2 separate regions of the Homo sapiens genome follow, and region 1 is linked to region 2. A link means that fine-mapping ties the variant in region 2 to the expression of a gene that starts in the linked region. Tissue or cell type: whole blood. Region 2 holds a variant in brackets; the other region holds the start of a gene. All regions are shown on one strand. Distances are from middle to middle.

What was found. PIP is the estimated chance that this variant, and not a neighbour inherited with it, causes the effect.
Region 1: it holds the start of CHST7, and the variant in region 2 is fine-mapped to the expression of CHST7 in whole blood (TOPMed, PIP above 0.99). The same link has a PIP of 0.9 or more in blood mononuclear cells and monocytes.

The regions. Positions count from the first base shown.
Region 1 is chrX:46,568,723-46,576,902 of GRCh38, reverse strand. CHST7 (carbohydrate sulfotransferase 7) reads right to left here and starts at 3,138. Exons shown (of 2, transcript NM_019886.4): 1 at 1,480-3,138. The coding sequence starts at 2,971. The coding sequence ends at 1,511. RefSeq lists silencers at 1,891-1,950, 2,071-2,120.
Region 2 is chrX:46,621,798-46,629,977 of GRCh38, reverse strand. All of the region lies in intron 14 of SLC9A7 (solute carrier family 9 member A7), which reads left to right. LOC124905182 (a long non-coding RNA gene) reads right to left here. Exons shown (of 2, transcript XR_007068222.1): 1 at 5,621-8,180; 2 at 3,072-4,715. Among named protein-coding and RNA genes, the nearest start is that of CHST7, 52 kb to the right of the region's middle. The variant C/T (reference allele first, on the strand shown) is at 3,252.

The DNA.
Region 1 (8,180 bases), 53 kb after region 2:
TCCTAGCAATTTCAGAAACTGACTAAGAAAACCATTTGATTACTGGGAGAAAAATTAGTTAGCCAGCTTCTGAAATCACTCTGAAACCCTGGTTCTGTAACAACAACAAAATCCCTCTTCATTAATATCTTCAACGTTTGTCCTCAGAGCTTCATCTCAGGGGAATGCTGAATTACACTATAAAATAATGAATGGAAACTTAACTCACTTCCGCCCACCCAGCACTACTTTTCCTCCTCCTCTGGACTGACTGCACAGTGCAGAAGGCGGCACCCTTCCAACTCACATAAAGTTTGGGGAAACACACTCCCATGTCACTAAGTAGACTCCTATGGTCAGCACTGTGCAGAACAAACCCTTCCCTCAGGCCATACACTGACCCACACAGAACACATTTTGAGACTGTTTAAGCCCCACTTTAGCATCTTCAGATATACAGAAAAAAACAAAAAACAAAAATGGAAAAACAAAAAAGAGGGGGCAGTGTCTTTTCACAAAGCTCCTCCTGCAGTCACAAACTGCTACTGCCAATTGAAGGCTCCATCTGTCAAACGGATGGGGTGGAGTGGGGGACACCCAACCCTGAGGTCTTGTCGACACTAGAGGAAGCTGACCAGGCAGCTTTTGTGACCTGATGTGAATGGGATATGGTCAAATATCCTGCAAACGCCAGCTACAGGGAGAAGGGGGAAGGGAGAGGAGGAGGGGAAGGGGGAGGAAGAGGAAGAGAGGGAGAGGGGAAATGAGAGAGGGAAGGAGGGGGAGGGGAGACAGAGAGGCGCACATGAGCCAGGGGAAAGCAAGTCTATTCACTACACAAGCGCCTGAGACACACAATGTGCAAGAAGTGTTGCAAGAGCCGCTGGACTGTGCCTGCATGTTTGGAAATTCAGGAGAAAAGCCCTGGAGCCTGCGCATAAAACAGACAGAGAAGAAACATGAAACAGAAAGATTAGGGATAGGTAGGGTTAGAATCAATGCCTTTCCACCAAACTCTCTGCTTTTGGCTTTCTCTGTGCCTGTAAACACCATTGCAAAGTCTCCTCACAGGACAAACTGGCATCAAGATAACTCCATAATCATCAACCTCAAATGGTTTCCGAAATCCTATACTCCACATGTCAATTCCCAGTCTCACGGCTCATTATGACTGTTTCAAACCTTCTCTACTCTCCTCAGCCCTCTGAAACCTCCTACTTCATACAGGGGAATGGGAATGCAGAGACCTGGCTTCCACCTCAGTCACGCCTAAATATCCTCTCTCATCTCAGGATCTCCCTCTAAGGAGGCGCGAGGCTAAGCTGGAGATTCCGATGAATCTACCAAATTCTACGAGCAGGACTTTCCCATCCTCTTGGACCTGATCTGATAGAATGGGATCCAGCATGGTACCCTCCCCCCTACACTTCCCCCTCCCCAGGCCATTCCAGGCTCCCGGAAGACCAGTCCCGGTCCCTGCCTTGCCCCGGGCCACCTTACCCGGATCCGTGCCGGGGACAGGGATGGGAGGCTACGTGGCGCCGTCGGCATCCATCTCCAGCGGCGTCTCCCCTTCCCTGGGCTGCTCCGCGTCGCCCTCCTCTCCGCTGCGAGGGTAGGCGAGCAGACGCATGGCTGGAGCGCAGGCGGCCTCCACCTGGCGCACCTGCTCTCGGCTCAGGCGCTCGCGCCAGGCGTGCACCGCCTCCCGGGCGTCGCGCGCTGACAGGTGGAAGGGCCGGTCGGCGCCGTAGGCCGCGCCGCGAGTCATGTTGAGCGCGAAGGCATCGAGCGCTGCGAGCGCGCGTAGCCCGGAGAAGCGCAGCAGGCGGCGCAGCTGGGCGCGTGGCTGCCGCACCAGGTCCTCATAGCGCAGCCTCAGGTAGCGGCGCCGCAGCCAGGCGGGCGCGCCGCGCGCGAAAAGCAGATCGCGCAGCCAGGCTTCGCAGATCACCTCGAGCGCACCGGTCAGGAAGAAATCGGCGCGCGGCGCGGCGGGCAGCGCGCGAGACTGGCCCCCGGGGCGAGCACCCACGCCGTGCGCCAGCAGCACACGGTGGAAGCGGTCGCCCCTCTGGCGGGTGCGCAGCACCTGGATGCTCTCGCGCAGCAGTCCCTGCCTAGACTTGAGGCGCGAGTTGTGCACCGCCCTCGGGTCGCGGAAAAGCTGCACCACCTTCAGGTTGAGGCCTGGATCACGCAACAGGGGCACCAGCACGCCCAGATCGAGCAGGCGCACGTCCTTGATGACCACCACCGGGTACTTTCGGCACTCGGCCTCCAGGGCGCGTATCGCCACGGGTGGGCAGCTGCGCTCGCAGGCGGTGTCCTCGACGAGGCCCACCTCGGCCCGGGCACGGGGTGCGCCAGGACACAGTGGCGGCGAGCAGATGACCTTGTTAGTCCGCCAGCGGAAGAGGGCGGCCGTGGTAAGATTGGCCGTGTCCGGGGCGCGCGCAGCGGGGTCCCCCGGCGGCGCGTACAGCCGCAGCACGGAGAAGTCGCAGCGGAAGAGCGAACGCAGCATGTCGCGCAGCGCGCCCTGCAAGCTCTCGGCGTCGCCCGGATACAGCGCCTGCCATAGATGCCACATGGGCTCATACAAGTAGAAAACGTCCGGGTGCTGGTTAAAGAGTTCGCCCAGGAAGGACGAGCCGGTGCGCCAGGTGGCATGCACGTAGATGTGCTGCTTCTCGCGAGACACTGCCTCCCCGACAGCGCCGCTGAGGTTGCTTGGGAACCGAGGAGACTGGTTCGCGCCCCCTTCCTCGGCGGCCCGCGCCTCCGCTCCCTGCTCGCGTTCGCCGGCCGCCGCCGCCTCCAGGCTCCACACTCCCAGGCTGCGCTGCAGGCCGGGGCAGTGCTCGGCGCCCTTGTCCCCGTCGCGGCCGCCGTCCAATACGGAGGGGACGAGCAACAGCACCAGCGTGTACAGCACCAACAGCAGCGCGAACTTGCAGTACTCTCGGCGTCGCCGCCGCCGGCCCTTCATCGTTCACCGACCCTCCAGAGCGGGTCGGGCGCCAGTCTTCTCCCGTTCCTCAGAAATCCCGTGCCAGGTCCGCTCCTGTGGCCTCTCCCGGCCCCTCTGCGCCGGGAGGAGCAGAGCCGCGGGGCCGCGCATCCACAAGGGGAAACTTGGAAGGCGGTGGTGCTACTGACGGCGCCCCTGCCCTCTCGGCTTAGCAGCCGGAGAGCCGCCTATTGGCCGGCTTGGCAGCCGCCCGCCCCGCCTTTCTGCCCGCCTGGGTTCGCCCACGGCTCTGCCAGATCTGGGCGGGGCTGTAGCGGGGCTGGGACGCCGGCTTACCCAGCCAGACCCCCACCTTTCCCCAAACCCTCCGTAATGAAGTCTTCATCAATGACTTCAGGCAAAGGAGGGGCCTGTGTGTACAGAATGTACCCAGTAAAGGGCCATAGACCCCACCCGGAGAAGGTCACTGCCTCTTCTGTTTTATGTCCCCTGCCTAGCCATCGCTATCCTAGGCAGATAAACACTCGCCACTATACATCCAGCGCCCCCATCAGCCCTGGAGTGGGTGTTACTGAGTTCCGGACTGAAAGATAGAAGATTGTACGTGGCAGAGCGGTCCAGGGGGGTTGGAGATACTACTGCATCCACGCAGCACATTTCATAAAGTCTAGCCTTTGTGAAATTCTAAGTGTTGTGTTCCTTAGGGTTTCACCAGCTGATGGGCTCTGCACATTTTACCAATACTCTGGGGCCCAGTTTGGTCATTTGTAAAATGTGAATAATTCTTAGTACCCATGTACCTCCTGGGATTGCGAGATTTGGGGGTTGTTACCACAGTATAACCCAGCCTATTCTGACACCTATGAGCAAAAGACATTTACAGAATCAAAGTGGTAGAATGGTGACCTTTCTCAGGAGCTCGGTGTTTAAAAGGACCCGTAAGAAGAAATGTGTACCCAAAGATAGATGAAAAAGAGACAGGAAGTCCAACAGGCAGATGAAGACTAGAGTTACTAAAATTCAAAACAGAACCAAAAAAGATACATTTTGCTCTGTTTCATCAGGCTAATGAATAAGGAAGTGAGAGCTTCCTTTCACCAGCTTGGGGAAGGTGTTGTAAAGTTAATAAAACATAGAAAGCATATCTACTTATCTCCACCAGGGGAAGGTGTTCAAATTGGAAGAGTGAGAACATATGCAATGCTCTCCACTGGTCTTTTTCATCACGGAAGCTACTCCACCTGTGAAACCACTGACTCAAGCATTTCGTTTTCTTTCCACAATTCCCCTCTTCTTCCAGCCAGTTGTTCAAATCTTCCCTATTCTCCAACCTCCACTTTTTGACCACCACCCCCACTTTCTTCTCAATTTTTCATATTCAGCTGAAAGATGCCATACCATTATTTTAATAACACTCCCTCCAATAAGCTAAACTCACGTGCCCTCTGCCTTTTCATTACTCATCTAGCAAAATCCCCCAAACCCTGCTTTTGGCTTTCTCTGTGCCTGCAAACACCACTGCGAAACATTTCTCCACAGGTGTGAGCCAGGCACAGTGGCTCACGCCTGTAATCTCAGCACTTTGGGAGCCCACAGAACAGATCAGCATCAAGATAACCTCATAATCATCAACCTGAAATGGTTGCTGAAATCTTAGGTTCTTCATGTCACTTCCCAGTCTCCAGTTCCATTATGATGATTTCAAACCTTCTCTAGTCTCCTCAGACTTCTGATACCCCTCTTCCCCCACCCACCTCTTCTCAGCACATGACCTTACTGCCTACTTCATAAAGAAACCATGTTAGACGATCTCTCACTTTTCCACTACCAAACTCATATATGCATTGACCTCTGTACACATCTCGTTTATAGCAAGGATATGATTTTGCAATATTAATCTACAACTTTCCCTTCTGTTTTCACTTTTCCCTCCTCTCTGGCTTTTTTAAAAAGCTTTGAGACAGGGTCTGGCTCTGTCACCCAGGCTGGAGTGCGGTGGCACTATCACCACTCACTGCAGCCTCAACCTCTCAAGCCCAAGCGATCTTCCTACCTCAGCCTCCCAAGCAGCTGAGACCACAGGCATGTGGACCACACCCAGCTAATTTTGTTTGTTTGTTTGTTTTTTGTAGAGACCGGGGTCTGTATGTTGCCCAGGCTGGTCTTGAACTCGTGGGCTCAAGTGATCCTCCCACTTCGGCCTTGTGCTGGGATTACAGGCCTGAGCTACTGTGCCTGGCCTCCTCTCATCTTTTAAGCAAGTAGGTGGCTCTGTGCTGGTGTGAGGGGAGAGGTGTGGCTGGGCAGAATGCAAATAGTTGCTGGTGTTTCCCGCTTCCCCCCACCCCCCGCCCTCCGCTCCAAAAGCCTCAACTCTGATAGTGGAAAGTGTGATAGGTTTTTTAAATAACCACAAAGTATTCCCCTCCTCTGTTTTGCCTTTGGGCAATGCCTTCCCATACTGACTCTGGGATGACCATGTGGCTTGCATTGGCCTGTGGGACAGTAGCAAACATGACACAGCAAAGGTTTGAAAAATACTCCTGCTGTGGGAATTGCCCTCATCCTGCTCTTTGGAACCCTGAGATCGGCTCGTGAAGAAGCCTGGGTTAGCAACATGGCTCAGAAAATAAGCCCTCCCAGCTGAGGCCCCCCACCCCCCAGACAAACAAGCCTGCTGACCGCCAGACAGGTGAGAAAGGAGATAGATCCTCGACCAGTGCTTCTCAAACTTTAATGCTTGAAGGCTCCTGTCAAAATGCAGAAAGTGGGCCTGGCCCAGTGGCTCACACCTGTAATCCCAACGCTTTGGGAGGCCGACGCGGGTGGGTATCCTGAGCCTAGGAGTTCAAGACCAGCCTGGGCAACATGGTGAAACCCCGTCTCTACCAAAAACACAAAAAAAGTTAACCAAGCATGGTGGCGTGCACCTGTAGTCCCAACTACTTGGAAGGCTGAGGCGGGAGGATCACTTGAGCCCAGGAGGTGGAGATTGTAGTGAGCCGAGGTCATGCCACTGCACTCCAACCTGGGTGACAGAGTGAGACCTCATCTCAAAAAAAAAAAAAAAGCAGAAAATGATTCATTACACCTAGGGTGGGGCCAGAGAGACTACATTTCTTTTCTTTCTTCTTCTCCTTCTTCTTTCTTCTTTCTTCTTCTTTTTTTAAATAGACAGGGTCTTCTCTCCCTCTGTCACCCAGGCTGGTGGAAGGCTGGAGTGCAGTGGCGTGATCATAGCTCACTGCAGCTTCAACTTCCTGGGTTCAAGCAATCCTTCTCATGCCTGGCTAATTAAAAAAAATTTTTTTTTAGGCTGGGCGCGGTGGCTCACGCCTGTAATCCCAGCACTTTGGGAGGCCAAGGCAGGCGGATCACGAGGTCAGGAGTTGGAGACCAGCCTGGCCAATATGGTGAAACCCCATCTATACTAAAAATACAAAAATTAGCCAGGTGTGGTGGCACATGCCTGTAGTCCCAGCTACTCGGGAGGCTGAGGCAGAAGAATCACTTGAACCCGGGAGGCAGAGGTTGCAGTGAGCCAAGATCGTGCCACTGCACTCCAGCCTGGGCGACAGAGTGAGACTCCATCTCAAAAAAAAAAAAAAAAATTGTAGGGTCTTGCTATGTTGCCCAGGCTGGTCTTGGACTCCTGGCCTCAAGCAATCCTCTTGCCTCGTCCTCCCAAATTGCTGGGATTACAGGCACGAGCCACTGCACTGGGTCCTGAGACTACATTTCTAATAAGCTCCTGGGTGCTTCTGATGCTCCTGGTCTGAGGACCACACTTAGAGTAGAAAGGTGCTACACCTTCCTGCCCTAACTGAGCTGACCCACCAAATTGTGAGAAATAATAGATGTAAGTTTTAGGGGTTTGTTTTGTAGCAAAAGCTAGCTGATATAAAGAAGGTGTGAGGGCTTAGACGAAATGTTTTGGAGAAGCAAAAGAAAGAGCAGCAGCACTCTAGTGCCCCCAACCCCACTGAGACATTTTCCTTAGGCTAGGAGGAGTGGGCAAAGGGAGAAGTCTATGGATCCTGCAGCCCAGGGCACCTGAACTCTTTTTCCTGGCAATGTGTCAGGGCAGAGCAGGAGTCAAAGAGAAGTGGCCACATGGTTCAGCTTGACAGAGATGATCAGGGGCACTGTGCCAAACCTTCCTGGGCCCCAGGCATAGCTTGGAAGCAGCAGAAGGGTCAAGTGACAGTGATGGAGACATCTCAGGGCAACTAGGTGAGCCAAAAACCCAATGATTCTAAGACCCCAGATCAAGAGTACATACAACCTTGGGAGTAGAGGAACCCTAGGAATTAATAAGGTCAATCAATGGTCTGTCATCCTAGCAGAAGGAAAACTCAATCAGAATTAAAGTTGTTTTCTATTAAGTGATTTCTATCACATCTAAGTTACTAGATCTGCTATCCATTTTTCACAATAGAGTGGTACAATAGAGTAGGCCCCGGTCCCTCCTATCAATCACCATTTCTCCTCCCTATTCAACTACACCCTCTCAACCAGATTATTTCCACTGATGTGAAAATTAAACAGTTTGATCTCTTTCTCTGTTTCTTCCTCTATCTCTCTCTCTTTAAAGTCCCATTTATTTGCATCCTCCTTTAGCATAGCTGCTGCTAACACATACAGTACCCTTGTGAGAATCAGAAAGTGCCCCCTCCAGACAGATGAATTGCAAGGGGGCTGACCCCATTCAAATAAGTACCCCTTCCTTCAGGCCACAGCCCCAGTCCAAGGTTAACAGCTTGAAGGCAGAACCTGGCCAGATTCTAGCCCGCTGTTGCATCTTTCTGCCAGGTACCCTCACTCTGCCCTTCTCCTACCCTTGTCCTGTTGCCACTGGTTTCTCTACCCACTCCTCACAGCCCAGCTTCTTAGTAGAGCTGTCTATACTAGTTCTCTCTGTGCTCTCATCTCCTACTCATTCTGTGGCAGGCCAGGTCTCCCTAACGGCTGAACAGGCAGGCCTCCCTAACAACTGTTTCAGCACTGAGTGGTTAAGCTAACTATTAAAAGCTAAGAGAGCCAGTGCCCTTATACAAAGGCTGGAAGGTAACAAAAGCACACCAAGAGTTTTGCCTAGGTCTTTCCTGGGCCTTGAAGCGTGACAAGAGAAGGAAGGAGTTCTTAACAGGACCCATTTAAGATTAAACAAGTTTCTCTGGGTGCAGTGGTTCATGCCTGTAATCCCAGCACTTTGGGAGGCCGAGGC
Region 2 (8,180 bases):
CATTATGTCAGTTGGGAGCATGTGGTCTCAGTGAGTTCTCTTTGAAAATTTGCTATTTGACTCTAGCTTTGATTAAGGACTTTAGAAAACAGGAGTTCAGGAACTGAGCACCTCGAGGCTAATTTAGAGTATAACAGTTTGGGAGATCTTGAAACTCAGCCTGAGAAAACCCCAGGGGAAAACATGATGGCCGTCCTTATTTCACCAAAGGAAAGATAATGGCTCTGGTAGGACATGGCTGCCCTATTCTAAAGCATCCTCCACAGAACTGTGGCCAGTCTAGATTAATTTTGTAAGAAAAAAAGGCCAATAGCAGCTGGATCATAAGATTTGGAGAGATTTCATCTTGCTCTGGACCATTCAAAACATCCCCACCCCCTTTGCTGTTTCCCATTGCTCCTACCTCTGCATTCAAGCATCTGTAACAGGAAATAAGTGAAAGGATTTGGCTGGTCATGTAGTAGAACTTACTATGTATCACATGAGCCCTGCGCACTGGGAACACTGGGCTTGTAATTAGATTCAGTAACAAGCTTACTGTCACTTTTCTGTGGAAATGTTTGAGTGAGAAAGCAGCAGGTCCAAAGTGCTGAGGGTTCTTGTATTTAGTCCATGCAGTAACAGCTAAAATAGCCCCCACCCCCAGGTGGAGTGAGTCTCAGGAACCTCCCTGGATGGGCCTGGATGGATGAACTCAGTGTTCCTGTCAGCTCCCAGAGGGCCCCTTGGGCTGAGAGCACCGCACATGTGGTGTTGTGAACGGGCTGGCAGCCACTCGCGCTGCACTCCTAATGGCACCCTGTTTGCCACAGCCCTAGCCAGAAGCTGTGTCACAGCTTCCCCCTGACCTCCTTCCTTCCAGACCTCATACACAGTCATGCAGAGGGCCCCTCAAAGTCAGTTCCACTGACCTTTTGAAAGGTTTTCAAGATTGCTGTCATATGGGGAAAAACATGCAAACTTCAAGCTTGGTTCTCCAGGACACCCTCTTAGAAATGACTCACGCCCTTGTGCAGAGAGGACCTTATTTCTCCAGTTCCTCCTGGTCTGACCTCCTCATTCTAGTGAGCCACTAACAGCAGGGCTCAGTGCACTCTGTGGCCATGAGAAACAGGAAAACAGAAATAAATGGGCTTCTCATTTTTGGGTGAAACCCTGGGTTCTTGCAGTTTCCCCTGAAATAGATCCAGGTCACATGCTCAGTGTTGTCATGAAACTGAAATCAGAGGTAGGGAAAGTCCAGATGTTTGTTCTCCACCAGAGAAAAAAAAGGGCGGTTCTCTTTACCTCATTTTCTAAATAATCTTCCTAAAAACAACAAACAAAAAAGTGACATTTGATGGGAAGGCATGTCTTATAATGAGCACAATTCTCCTCACTGGTCTTGAAGCCCAAGGCTATAAACAGAGTCATGGCTAGGGAGCTACAGAATATTAGCTCATGTGGGAAAAGGAAGGGAGCTGTTGGCTAGAACTTTGCTTCATGTGGGGAAAGCATAAAAATATTGTGGGCAGACTTCAGCTTTGTGTCCCCTGGTAAGTTTGACTCATTAGAACAAAACAAGACAAAAAAAACAAAAAACAAAAAACAAAACTCAGTGCTTTGTTTCTCTGGAGGTCTTGGTGACTTTGCAACCAAAACAAAAACAACCCTAGCTGGAGGCAAGCTGCCCAGCCCTGGGGGTGGCCTCCCACCCCGATAAAGCAGGGGACTTTTCATGCCAGACCAGACAGCTGAGATTTCTGTTGGCCGTACATGCAGACACATCATTCACTTCCTTCCCTGAGTTTACAGAAGAGCACTCATTGATGAGGCCACTTTGGAGCAGCTAAGAGTGTGAATCTGAATTTATCCCAGTTTCACCATATCAACAGGACAAGGTCACAAGCCGGATATTAATGGAGTGTGGAGGAAAGGAAACCACCAATGCCTGTGTATATGCACACGTGTGTGCGTGTCTGTCTGTGTGTATGTAGTGAAAACTGTAGAAAATCAGCAGTTTATTGTTGCGTTCACATATGACTTTCTGAGCAAGTTAGAATCATTTGTTTCTGGGTCCTCCGTGTTTTTTTTTGTTTGTTTTTGTTTCTCCAGGCTGAAATCTGATACCCGTAAATCTGTCACCTAAATCTTTAACTTCAAACAGTTGCAGAGGTGCCTTTCCTCCAGTTGCTACTCTGTGACCACCGCCCCCCCCCCAACCCGCCCATTTTTTTGTGCTTCCAAGTGCCTCCCTTGGCCCCTGATTTCCCTTTCTGCTCTTCCTTTTCTGTTTTCTAAAAACTCAGAGTCAAGATCAATTTATTCATTTATTTGACAAATAGTTATTGAGCACCTGTTCTATTTCAGGCATTCTTTCAGGTTCTGGGAAAATATCTGCAACAAGGTAGATGAATCTGCATCCTGAAGGGCTTGGTGACAAGGTGATAAAGGGTGAGGGTGGAGAGTGGCAGAAGCAAGAGAGTGGAGACACTCAGGCCTCACCAGCCCCACTGAAGCAGAATCTGCATTTTAACAGTGTCTCCAGGGAATGTGTGTACATTTTACCATTAGAAAAGCCCTGATCTAGGCAATGTATAGCTCTGGAGAGTTTTAAGCAGGGAAGAAAACTATCTGTGTATCACGGTCAGAGATTTGACTCTGGTTTTTTTTTTGTTTTGTTTTGAGACAGGGTTTCCCTCTGACGCCAAGGCTGGAGTGCAGTGGTGCAATCACAGCTCATTGCAGCCTTGACCTCTTGGGCCCGAGGGATCCTCCTCCCTCGGCCTCCTGAGTAGCTAGGACCACAGGTGTGTGCCACTTCACCAAGCTAATTTATAAAATATTTTTCTAGAGACAGGGTCTTGCTTTGTTGCACAGGCTGGTCTCAAACTCCTGGGCTCAAGTGATCTTAACCCTCCCAAAGTGCAGGGATTACAGGCATGAGCCCACTGCCTGGCTGATTCCCTGTTTCTAAACCCTATTATTACCCTCTGCTGAGAAATCTTGGATCCATTATCCCAATGATATGACAAAGGCCCTGTATTAGTCCATTCCCACACTTCTATAAAGAACCACCTGAGGCTGGGTAATTTATGAAGAAAAGGTTTAATTGACTCATAGTTCTGCAAGCTGTACAGGAAGCATAGCTGGGAGGCCTCAGGAAACGCACAATCATAGTGAAGGCAAAGGGGAAGCAAACACATCTTACCATAGCGGAGCAGGAGAGAGAGAGAGCAAGGGGGAAGTGCCGCACACTTTTAACCAGATCT[C/T]GTGAGAACTCACTCACTATCACAAGAACAGCAAGGGGGAAGTCTGCCCCCATGATCCAGCCACCTCTTACCAGGCCCCACCTCCAACGCTTAGGATCACAACTTGAGATGAGACTTGTGGGGGTACACAGAGCCCAAACATACCAGGCCCAGGCCGGGCGTGGTGGCTCACACCTGTAATCCCAGCACTTCGGGAGGCCAAGGCAGGTGGATCACCTGAGGTCAGGAGTTCAAGACCAGCCTGGCCAACATGGCAAAACCCCATCTCTACTAAAAATACAAAAATTAGCTGGGCATGGTGGCAGGCACCTGTAATCCCAGCTACTTGGAAGGCTGAGGCAGGAGAATCGCTTGATCCCGGGAGGCGGAGGTTGCAGTGAGCCGAGATCACACCACTGCACTGTAGCCTGGGTGACACAGCGAGACTCCATGTCCGAAAAAGAAAAAAAGCATATCAGGCCCAAATCAAGTGACATCATTTATTTACTCTTCTGCTCCATATTAGTTGTCTGTGACTGCTGTAACAAATTACCACAAATTTAGTGGCTTAAAACAATAAAGTTTTGTTTTTGTTTTTGTTTTTTTTTAAGGGACAGAGTTTCACCATGTTGGGGCTGGTCTTGAACTCCTTGGCTCAAGTGATCTGCCTGTCTTGGCCTCCCAAAGTGCTGGGATTATAGGCATGGGCCACCATGCCCAGCCAAAACAATACAGTTTTGTCATCCTTACAGTTCAGTAGATCAGATACCTGGTGGGCTCAGCTGGTTTCTCTGCTTCAAGTTTTTCAAGGTGTTGGCAAGGCTAAGCTCTGGGGAGAAGCCACTTCCAGGCTCATTCAGGTTGTCAGTAGAATTCAGTTCCATGTGGTTGTAGGACTGAGGTCCTGTGTTCTTGCTGCAAAGCCAGCAACAGTGGGGCAAGTCAAGCTCTGAATCTCTCCCGCCCTTTCTTCTACTGCATTCCTTCCTCTGACTCTTTTGCCCTCCATGTCCTTTTTTTTTTTTTTTTTTTTTGAGAGAGAGACAGTCTTGCTCTATTGCCCAGGCTGGAGTGCAGTGATGTGATCTCAGCTCACTGCAACCTCCACCTCCCAGGTTCAAGCAATTCTTGTGCCTCAGCCTCCTGAGTAGCTGGGATTACAGGTGTGTGCCACCACACCCAGCTAATTTTTGTATTTTCAGTAGAGACCGGGTTTCGCCATGATGGCCAGGCTGGTCTTGAACTCCTGACCTCAAGTGATCTGCCCACCTCAGCCTCCCAAAGTTCTGGGATTACAGGCGTGAGCCACTATGCCTGGCCCTCCTTGTCCACTTTTAAGGGCCCACGTGATTGTCCTGGGCCTACCTGGATAACCTTAAGTCCATCCACAAAGCCTTTTGCCAGGTAGTGTAACAGGATCCAGGGATTAGGCTGTAGAAAGCTTTGGTGGGGTGGCCATTATTCTGCCTACCACATGCTCCATCCCTGAAAAAAAAAAAAAAAGTAAGCTGTTCTTATTAGTGTAATGACCTTATCTTTTAAAAACATCTTTTAATATTATATAAGAATGGAATGAAATGTAACTCTACACAGATATCATTATGCATTCATTCTAGAAAAATTATTTCAAAAATAGGACTGTTTGCTATTCCCCAGTTCTTTAATCAGCTTTCTTTTTCTTCATTATATTTGTCAGTCAATATGTATTTGTCTGTCTCCCCTCCCCCTACCCCCCAACCCTCGCCACCTTCACCTTCTGGAAAGAGTGCTCCTTGAGGCCCAGGTGCTAAGTTACATTCCTCTTTGTGTTTCCAGCACCCAGCATGGTGCCTGGCACATAGTAGGTGCTTAATGAATGCAGAAGAAATAGACACTCATTGTTACATGCTCAAAAAATGATAATAAGCAGGGTTGGTGGTATTTTCTTGAAGGGGCTTCTCTATTAATAATGGCAGTAAAAAGATGAAAATTCCTTGTGTAAAAAGCCACACAAGATAGCCAAATGATGTTAATGGCTAGGCGTTTTTTTCCCCCAAACAAATATGTGCTTGAAATTACATATCCAGTCTTTGGAAATGAACTTAATTAGTAATATGAGCTCTAACTACATGCCAGATTCTGGGTTAAATATTTCACAAATATTTAATCAGCACAAAAAGTCACATGGCAAACAATAATGAGTCAATATTTGTTGAGTGCTTGCCACATATCAGACACCATCCTAAGTTCTTTAAATGAAAAATCTTTTACAGTTCTAAAATTAAAACCTATTTTCTCTACATTCACACCACTTTTAATGCCAAATATGTAGGGTCTTTTTGTATACCAGCCAGTTCTCCAATTCCCAATGAGTACCAACTGGACCTCCTACAGTTTAACTCACTACGTACCTGGAGTTAGCGTCAGATCCCACAGGTTAAGGACTCAGTCCCACAAGACTGTCCCCACTTCAGACACCAGTTGCAAGTCCCAGGTCGTGACCTGTACTTCAGACTGACTGGCTATAGGGGGGGGTTCCCAACCCCTCCTCAGGTTCGATAATTTGCTAGAATGACTCACAGAACACAACTTTTACCATTACCAGTTTGTTATAAAGGATACAACTCGGAAATAGCCTAATGGAAGAGATGCATAGGGCAAAGGATGGGGATGGGAGTATGTGGCGCCAACTTGGAAGCCCTCCAAATTGTGTCATTTAGGGTTTTATGGAGGTTTCATTACATAGGCATGGTTGATTAAATTAGTAGCCATTGGTAATTAACTCAATCCCCAGTCCTCCCCTCCTAGGAGGTTGGGATGGGGCTAAAAGTTCCAATCCTCTAATTACATGGTTGGTTTCTCTGGCAATCAGTGTCCATTCAAGAGTCACCTTATTAGCATAAATTCAGGTGTGCTTGAAAGGAGCTTATTATTAATAAAAAAAGATGTTCCTCCCACCCCATCTACTCAGGAAATTCCAAGGGTTTTAGGAGTTTTATGTCAGACAAAAACCAGATATATATTTCTTGTTCTATCACAACATTACAGCCTCATAATGCCCCTAGAGGTAGGTAATTATTAATATTTCCAGTTTACAGATGAGGATACTGAAGCACAGAAAGGTTAGGTAACTTGCCCAGCATCACACAGCAAGACAATGGCAGCGGCACAGTCAGGAGCCAGATAGTCTCTTGAGAGAGCCTGTGATATCCACACCTACACTTCTTGGAGTGCTATGTCGCTTTTGAAACATTTCTTAGAGAAGCCACGCTTCTGCACAGGCTTGAAAGGTGAATAGAGGTTGGCCGGGTAGGTGTTCTGGGTGGGAGAAGGTGAGAGGAAAAAAGAATGCTCCAGGCCCTAGAAGTTGCCTGAGCTGAAGACATGAGGTGCGAACCCAGGTTTTGAGGAGGGGCGAGTTGAGAGAGCAAGTCTGTGCTTTTTCTGTGGACGGCACAGGAGTGGAAAATCCAAGAGTCGCCAAGTACAGCCAGGAAGGAGGCTCCGCCTGTTCCCACAGTGACCCTTCCTCAGTCCGGTGCTGTTCGGAGCCCACAGGAAGGGCTCTCAATGGCTTCTCTGTGACAGCAGCCCCAATCATGTCATGAAGCAGTTATTGCTTGTCTTCCGGGTCAGCTTTAAAAAATTAGTTCTGTCCCACAGAACTGCCCTGATTTCCCCAAAGCCACCATATGTGGATTTATCTAAGTTCTTCCTATACCTAATCATGCTTCTGGCACCATCTCTTGGAATAAGAAGTTGTTTAACACCCTTTTCACAAAGTTACACCTTTGATTTGTCCTGAATTTACCCCTTGTAGCCTCTAAGCGTTGTTTCTTAGTTCTTACATTTCGGGATTTGCTGTGGAGTCTGAGGTCACTTTATCTTATTCATGGATTGCAGGCATATCTTTCCGTAGCCTGAGAAGACCTTTTGTTAGTTTGCTGTCAAACCATTCCCTTGCTTTACTCATTTTAATTGTCTTTTTTGGGGCTTATATAAGTCTCTTGTAGCTTTCTTTTTTTAAATTTAACTTTTAACTTCCGGGGTTCTTGTAGCTTTCTTGAGATTAAATGGCAAGAAATTAAGTAGTCCAGTGATAATAAATGCTTTGTGGTTTTGCAGAGGTTAAGATGACAGAGTAGGGTTCATTGTTTTCATCATTGATTTAAGGGAAGAAGCGGAAGAAACTGACTTTGGGGTACTCGTTTTGTGCCTGATGGTTTAATAGTATCCTTCCTGATGATGTTTATCGTTGTGCTGGCTTTTTCCTTAGTAAAATTCTACAGGCACTTAGAACTGAGAACTTAGAGCCTATTACTTTATAAAGAACCATTTGATTTTTTCCATTATATATTTGCCTATCAAAAAAGTCATCTGCTACTTTTCTACTCAGTCATGTGGCATTTTGGAATCTTCCCAGAGTTGTCATTGGGTTAGCAATCAGTCACCCTGCAAATGGAGGCATTTCTGTGCTCTCTCTCTTGCTCATGATTTATAAAAATGTAAAATCAAATTGGTCTCTGGGGTCTCTCCTTGTTTATATTTCCTCATCCACAGAAGGGCCCATTTAACTGAGCCATTTCCATATCCATCACTAAACATTCCTGAAATACCGAGGGGATTCAATTTTTAAAAATAATCTTTGCTGTTGGAAACTTTAGGAGTGTATTAATAAATAGTGCTTGCTAATTTCTCTCCTTCTCTTGTCTATGTGCTTCTCAAAGATCTTTGATTAATTATTTGATGTTGCCATTGCGGGTAGAATTTACATTCACCATGATTTAAAACTACTTGTAATTTTGGTTCAAGTTGTATTTGGTGATTGTCAATTGTCCCTCACTTGCAGAGTTGCCTCTCCCTGTAATATTAAAGAGAATGATGATAATAATAGCTTCACAAGCAGTCTGTGCTTGCACAGCCCTAGTAGTACCCTCAAATTGCTGCAGTCAGTCTGAGTTTTATATTAAC